Homo sapiens: one gene and its partner. The protein of the gene in region 1 purifies or fractionates together with the protein of each later gene. This does not show direct contact. Each region holds a gene or a part of one and is shown on either strand. Other genes may lie near its edges.

Region 1 (3,805 bases):
CAGGTGGATCACGAGGTCAGGAGATTGAGAGCAGTGTGACCAACATGGTGAAACCCTGTCTTTACTAAAAATACAAAAAAAAAAAAAAAATTAGGCGGGTGTGGTGGCACGTGCCTGTAGTCCCATCTACTGTGGAGGCTGAGGCAGCAGAATCGCTTGAACCAGGGAGGCGGAGGTCTCAATGAGCTGAGATCATACCACTGCACTCCAGCCTGGGCGACAGAGCAAGACTCTGTCTCAATAATAATAATAATAACAAAAACTAACATAAGTTAAGTGCTCACTGTGTGCCTGCAACCATGCTAAGAGGTTGGTCTCTATATTGTCTCATTTACTGTCATGACAACTTGAAAGGTACATACTGTAGTTATTCCCATTCTACCAGAAAGGGACATGAGACTTGACTTGCCTCAAATCCCAAATTTGTTCCCAGATTCTGTCTAACAACAACAAAAGCCACTCACTATTCAAACTGTGTCTTGGGAGGATACCAAGCAGGGAGGTGAGGTGGCTGATCTTAACCGCATACTAAGTCCTTCCATGTTATCTCTGCTACCAGAACCCCCTTCCTCCCCTCGCGGCTCCTCAAGGAGGAACCACTCTCCACCTGGAACCCAAGGAGATTTTCTTCCCAGCGACAGGGGCAGAGAATGGCCTCTTGCAATTCCCCATCCAGCTGGAGAATTTAAGGATTCTGTTATTTCCTTTCCACAGCTCCTCTTCAGGAATTCACGTCCTGCTACCGGCCTCAGGACATAGCTAAAAATAACCTCTGGTTTCCAAACTGAAAGCCCTGTCTGTTGGGAGGCTTTGCCGGTGTGCGCCTGGGGCCGGAAGGGCTGTGTCGGAGTAGCTGAGGTCAGCCTGAGTCTCATGCCGGTGTTGCCTTCCTCTTTCCAAGGAAGCCCAGGGCCTCATGAGTCACCCCGAACACCCTGGGGGAGTCGGGTTGGAGGAGGGAGTTAGGTGGGACCTACTGTGGCACCACGGTGGCTGCCAGGCCGAGGATGCAGAACTGAACAAGAGGAAGGGTCGTTCCTAAAGAAACTCTAGGGGATTCTCTAAGTGGTGTCTGTTCTAATTATAACCCAATCCAGCCAGAATGGGGAGTTGAGGGAGAAAGGCCTCTCCTAAGCTGCCTTGGAGCAAACTCTCCATCCTTCGGGTGTTTCCATCCCTGCCACCTTATGTGCCCAGAGTTCTGTCTGGACTTGCCTGAGAAGGTTGCTGGATGATCTTCCAGCTGAGAAAAGCTTTCTCTGCCGGACAGCTCGCTGCCTTCTCCTGGTGCCGCAGTCACTTCCCACTGTCCCTCTCCATAAGTCAGGACAGTACCATGATAGTGATGGAACAGGCCCTGCTCTCTGACCTCCAGGTCCTGCTCTCTGACCTCCAGGCTCTGCTCTCTGACTTCCTGCCCCTGGCCCAGACTGCCCCTGGCTACAGGCTGTCCTCAGGAGCCCCACCTTGCCCCTCTGGGCAGCTTCCTTGGAACAGGGAAGAATAAGCACCAAGGCTCTGGAAGTGGAGGAGCCTTAAAGCCTGGGAGTCAGGAGGCAGGGGGAAGAGTAAAGGAGTCAGGGCTAGAGACTGGGCTTCGAGCATGGCCCACTGAGGCCCGCTGGTGATTTCATGGATGCTGAAACAGTCAGGAGGCCCCAGCAGTGCCTGAAATGAGACTGAATCTCACCTCACCACCCTTTGCTGCTCCCCACATTCTCCCAAATCTGGTACCCCTGCCCCAGGTGGCTGAAGCTGGACTCAGCCAGCCAGTAACCCCTAGCAAGGAGACTGGTTCTCTGTGTGTCCTGGCTTCCCATGTGCTCTGCCTGCAGAGAGGCAGAGGTTGAAGCAATTTCCCGAGGACCTGGCTACCTGGCAGCAGCTGGGCGTCCACCTTGAGAAGGATGGGGGAATCTCAAGAGATCTGCCTGTCTCCCGAGGGCTTTTCCGGCTCCGGAATGGCACATGTGGGAATCCCAGTCTTGTTGGCTACAACATTTTTCCCTTTCCTAACAAGTTCTAACAGCTGTTCTAACAGCTAGTGATCAGGGGTTCTTCTTGCTGGAGAAGAAAGGGCTGAGGGCAGAGCAGGGCACTCTCACTCAGGGTGACCAGCTCCTTGCCTCTCTGTGGATAACAGAGCATGAGAAAGTGAAGAGATGCAGCGGAGTGAGGTGATGGAAGTCTAAAATAGGAAGGAATTTTGTGTGCAATATCAGACTCTGGGAGCAGTTGACCTGGAGAGCCTGGGGGAGGGCCTGCCTAACAAGCTTTCAAAAAACAGGAGCGACTTCCACTGGGCTGGGATAAGACGTGCCGGTAGGATAGGGAAGACTGGGTTTAGTCCTAATATCAAATTGACTGGCTGGGTGAACTTCAACAGCCTTTTAACCTCTCTGGGAGATGAAAACGATGGCTTAAGGGGCCAGAAATAGAGATGCTTTGTAAAATAAAATTTTAAAAAAAGCAAGTATTTTATAGCATAAAGGCTAGAGACCAAAATAGATAACAGGATTCCCTGAACATTCCTAAGAGGGAGAAAGTATGTTAAAAATAGAAAAACCAAAATGCAGAAGGAGGAGACTCACAGAGCTAAACCAGGATGGGGACCCTGGGTCAGGCCAGCCTCTTTGCTCCTCCCGGAAATTATTTTTGGTCTGACCACTCTGCCTTGTGTTTTGCAGAATCATGTGAGGGCCAACCGGGGAAGGTGGAGCAGATGAGCACACACAGGAGCCGTCTCCTCACCGCCGCCCCTCTCAGCATGGAACAGAGGCGGCCCTGGCCCCGGGCCCTGGAGGTGGACAGCCGCTCTGTGGTCCTGCTCTCAGTGGTCTGGGTGCTGCTGGCCCCCCCAGCAGCCGGCATGCCTCAGTTCAGCACCTTCCACTCTGAGAATCGTGACTGGACCTTCAACCACTTGACCGTCCACCAAGGGACGGGGGCCGTCTATGTGGGGGCCATCAACCGGGTCTATAAGCTGACAGGCAACCTGACCATCCAGGTGGCTCATAAGACAGGGCCAGAAGAGGACAACAAGTCTTGTTACCCGCCCCTCATCGTGCAGCCCTGCAGCGAAGTGCTCACCCTCACCAACAATGTCAACAAGCTGCTCATCATTGACTACTCTGAGAACCGCCTGCTGGCCTGTGGGAGCCTCTACCAGGGGGTCTGCAAGCTGCTGCGGCTGGATGACCTCTTCATCCTGGTGGAGCCATCCCACAAGAAGGAGCACTACCTGTCCAGTGTCAACAAGACGGGCACCATGTACGGGGTGATTGTGCGCTCTGAGGGTGAGGATGGCAAGCTCTTCATCGGCACGGCTGTGGATGGGAAGCAGGATTACTTCCCGACCCTGTCCAGCCGGAAGCTGCCCCGAGACCCTGAGTCCTCAGCCATGCTCGACTATGAGCTACACAGCGATTTTGTCTCCTCTCTCATCAAGATCCCTTCAGACACCCTGGCCCTGGTCTCCCACTTTGACATCTTCTACATCTACGGCTTTGCTAGTGGGGGCTTTGTCTACTTTCTCACTGTCCAGCCCGAGACCCCTGAGGGTGTGGCCATCAACTCCGCTGGAGACCTCTTCTACACCTCACGCATCGTGCGGCTCTGCAAGGATGACCCCAAGTTCCACTCATACGTGTCCCTGCCCTTCGGCTGCACCCGGGCCGGGGTGGAATACCGCCTCCTGCAGGCTGCTTACCTGGCCAAGCCTGGGGACTCACTGGCCCAGGCCTTCAATATCACCAGCCAGGACGATGTACTCTTTGCCATCTTCTCCAAAGGGCAGAAGCAGTAT
Region 2 (4,258 bases), on another chromosome or scaffold:
AAGGTTGTTGTGAGGATTTCATAAAATAGTGCATGCAAGACCCTGGCCAGTGCAATCCATGGACCTTGTTGTATGAGGGAAGGATGACGGAGGGGTGGGGGAGGGGGTAGAAATGCAGAAGTTGTTGTGGGAACAAAGAGGAAGGGAAGTTTCTGGGAGTTGGTGGCATTTGAGCCAGATCTCAGAAGATGAATTGGATACTTCCCAGCAATGGAAGGTGATGAGGGCATTCTGGAAAGGGGAACAGACTGCCTCAGAGGCCAGCTGGGGCCGGCTCACAGAGGACTCTGAAAGCCAGGCCAAGGAGCCCGAGAGCCATGCAGAGCTGAGGAGCTGGAGCAGGAAGTGCCTCGGCTTCAGAAGAAAGGAGGACTGATGAGATGGGAGGGGGCAAAGTGGAGGATGGGGGTCCAGCAAGGAAGCCAGCAGGTTGGGGATGGCATGGCTAAAAGGGCCAAGAGGAAGGGGCAGACTGGAGAGCCATGACTAGGTCAAAGCCAAATGCCTTTATGTAAACAGAAGTGTGGGGACCTGGACTAGAACCACAGGAGGGGAACCGGGAGGGAGAGGCGAGAAGAGGGACACTCTCTGTGCTGCAAGAGGAGTTACCCCACCCAAGAACCTGAACACAAACCCACCCAGACACAGACAGCACATGTGCATTCCCGCTGAAGGATACTGACTTACAGCCCGGGGACCATATTTGGCTGATAGAAGTTTTGCTTTGTTTTGTTCCTGGCCTGTTCATTTGTTTTTGGTGAATTAGTTGCAAATGTATAAAAAGCAAAAGATTTTAGATTTTACATTTTAAATGTTGGATTCCTGGCTTCTCCTGCAAAATGAAAGAATCTGGCCACCTTAGGCCCCCGTTCCCTTGTAACACTCGCCTGGAGTTGGCAATCGGGGCTCTTAGGCAGATCTAGCCTCTCCCCGACAGGTCCCACCTCAGCCCCCTTCCCTGCCTGGCATGTGTCATTCCTAATCCACAGCAGAACTGCATCATTCCTTGTATACACTGATGGCCTGAGGGCACATACACTCAGAGCCCTAGGCGCACAAGCCATGGGCTACAGAGACCACCAGGTGCAGAGTGGCTCACATGCTCCGGTGTGTCTACGCACACATACATGCACACACACACGATTCTCTGCATTCTCATGCCGGAGTTTATTCTCCAGTGCACTGTGGTTCGTTCTCTGTGTGTGTGTGTGTGTGTGTGTGTTTGTGTGTGTGTGTGTGTGTAAATATGAGCAAATGAAGTGAGGATGAATGGAATGAATGAATGAATGAAACTCAAAGAGCCTCAGTGCAGGAAGACATGTTTTTCAATCTTTCTGACCTTCTTGTCAATATGGACTAGCATCAGACACCTCCTCTTAGCACATATAGGGCCTTTCATGTGAGTACAAAGCTCTTTTCCCTTTACAGCCCATTTCTATCACTACGTCTCTCTTTCCAGAGTCTCAATTTAGTAAATGTTTACCAAGCACCTACTAGCTGTTGAGCCATGTACCCGACACTTCATGCAGGAGTATCTCATATCACCCTCACCAGCCCCACGATCCGGAATTACTGTCTCTATTTCATAAAACATGGCCAAGATCCCATGGCATGTATGGGAGGGTGGAGGACAGGAGTTGAATGCAGATTCCCTAAGAATTATTATCATGTACAAACCTGCAAACTCATACCCCTGTGCTGGTGGCATCACTCCACCAGCCTTCCCTGGCTCTGCATCCCTCACTCATAGACTCTTCATTTTATCCAGCTGTTTATCAGCAACCGTGAGCACCTTGAGAGCAGGCATAAGTTTGAATTCCATCTGGGTCCCCAGCCTGCGCCCAGACTGCTTTTACTTTCCAGTGAATAGACAGAAAAAAGAGATGTGTTTGTTGGTTGGCTTTTTACTCTTAGCACCAAAAACATTTTCCTGAGTGCCCAGCCACAAACAGGGACCAGCAGTGGGTGCCACATGGGTGCTCAGAAGTGGCCCCCACCCACACCCTCAGCACCTTCCACCCAACTCAGCTCCTGGAGTGGCCCAGGAACCCCTTTCCCAGACTGATATATTGATGCCTCCACACCCTGGAAGAAATCTGGAGCTCCCAAATTCTGGGAGCAGAGCTCTCCTTCATGCTGCAGGAACCCAAAACTTTTTTCTTAGGATGCCACAGTGAGAGGGCAGAGAAAAATGAGGATTCCTCTCACCCAGAGTTAGGACATCTCTCTGTTTCATGCCCAGGTTCAGAGATATTCACCAGTTACACAAAGGCCGTGCCCAATTACCCTAACATAAGCAGAAACACACCAACTGACATAGCTGCTCCCGCCCACCATTCACACCCCACGACCCCACCAGTTACTAATTTCATCTGCAGTCAGACAGGTCCTGAAAGGAACACTCCAGTTCCACACACACTCCCCCAGCAGCTGTTCCCACAGCAGTACCCACAGACACCCAGAAGTCACGTAGTGTGACCCTCGGATCTTCGGGCCACGCGAGTACCCCGTCACACGCACACGCGCGTACACACACACACACACACACACACACACACACACAAAGTGCCCCTGGGAGTGAGACCCAAGCCAGATCCACCAAGACCCGCAGGGGCCCAATACCCCACCCGCCGCGCGCACTGACACCCGGAGAGAGGGACGCACAGCGGCTGTGGGTGAAGCTTCACAAAACCCAGTCGATAGACACACGCACGAGTTGTACACAAAGCCTTGGGGCGCGCAGATACGCACACGCAGGTCCACGCTGTTGTACCCAAAGTTGCGCGCAGAAAGCCCCAGCACGCCGGCTGCCCACCGCGCCCGCTCCCGCCGGCCCAGTCCACACCCCCTGCTCCTGCCCTTGCCCACAGACGCGGGACCCGGAAGGCCGAACCGGACCAGGCGGAGGCCCGGGGAGGCCGGGTCCCCTGGTCGCATGTCCTTCGGCGGGCCGCGAGGTCAGGCTCGCCGTCCTTCGCCGCCACTCCCCGCCCCCGGCCCTCGGCCTCCTGCCGCCCCCAGCGGTCCCCTCTCCGCGTGCGTACCTGTGCCGGGCCTCCCTCCCCGCCTCACCACGCTGGGGCGAAGGGCGCCCGGCCGCCGGCGGGCGAGGGTGCGTCCTCTCCGGTGCCCGTCCGCCTTCCTGCAGCCGGCGTACGCCTGCGGGGGTCTCGCCTGCGGGGGTCTCTCTCCTGCGGCGCAGCCCGGAGGGCGCGGGCCCGGCCGCCACCGCCTCGCCCTCCCGGTCTCCCGCCCCCTTCCCGGCCCGGCCCGGAGCCACTGCCGAGGCGCACGTACCTACTCGCGCCGCGCGGAGCTGTACGGCGGCGGTGGCGGCCGCTGGGGAGGCGGGGGGGGGATCCGGGGACGGAGGGACGGGAGAAGGGGCGGGGGCCGGGGCTCGCCGAGCGCCGCGGAGGGAGCTCCGCCCGCGGCCGGCGAGGGCGCCCGGAGAGTTAGCAAGGAGAGGGACAGGAAGGCGGGTGATGGGCTGGGGCGAGGGTGCGGGGGCTCCGATCCACCGTCCTCCCCTCCCCTCCAGGCAGATCTGGATCGCCGGCGCCTGGGCTTAGGGAACTGGGGCTTGGAGCCCGCGGTCCACGGGCGCAGGGGCGGGGCGGGCGGGGGCTGCTGAAGAAGATCCCTCCCCACCACCGGAGAGCCCCTATTGCGCCAAGCGCAGGTGCCTCCCCACTCCTCACCCCCACTCTGCCACTTCCCCTTCCCCCCACCCCCACCCCGCACGCAGCCCCCAGGTAGGACCCCGGGTCCTCTCCGAGGTCCTTAGGTCGGGACGGTCTCCTCGGGCGCTTGCGGCTCCGTGGCTCAAGGGCGCCACCTGAAGGCTGCAAGAAAGAATCCGACGATCCCCCTCCCCCTTTTCTCTGCAATTTTTTTCTCCGTGGGACAGTGGAGTGCTCCGCCCAAGAGGGGTGTTCTCCTGGGGGCATTGCCAATGGCCAAACACACCCTCACCCTCCAAGGCCCAGCTGTGGGGCCTCTTCTCCTGGAACCCCTCCCTGGGCACACACCCACTTACCCCACGGGCCCCTCCATCTGGGCTCTCCTTTTGCCCGCACTGTTTGCTCTTGTCTCTGACGGTCGTGATTTTGTTTAAGGGTCAGCCTCCTCCATCGGATTGGCAGCTCCTGGAGAGCAGGACCCATGTCTGATCACCTAGAAGACCTAGGTGGGTGTGGGTGAACAGGCTGTGAAAAGGGGTGACTTTCACTTCTTTCCTTTACAGGGCCGGAGTTAA

Evidence for each region.
Region 2: the proteins of PLXNA2 (region 1) and TMEM74B fractionate together in Homo sapiens (co-fractionation; one large-scale study listed by BioGRID). This does not show direct contact.

Annotation. Positions count from the first base shown.
Region 1 is NC_000001.11:208,216,885-208,220,689, reverse strand, and holds part of PLXNA2 (plexin-A2 precursor), read left to right. Parts: intron 1-2,687; 5' UTR 2,688-2,722; coding exon of another isoform or gene 2,723-2,767; coding exon 2,768-3,805. UniProt on the Homo sapiens protein: Coreceptor for SEMA3A and SEMA6A. Necessary for signaling by SEMA6A and class 3 semaphorins and subsequent remodeling of the cytoskeleton. Plays a role in axon guidance, invasive growth and cell migration.
Region 2 is NC_000020.11:1,182,094-1,186,351, forward strand, and holds the start of TMEM74B (transmembrane protein 74B), read right to left. Parts: upstream 2,889-4,258; 5' UTR 2,209-2,888; exon of another isoform or gene 1,856-2,208; 5' UTR 1,709-1,855; coding exon 1,678-1,708; intron 1-1,677.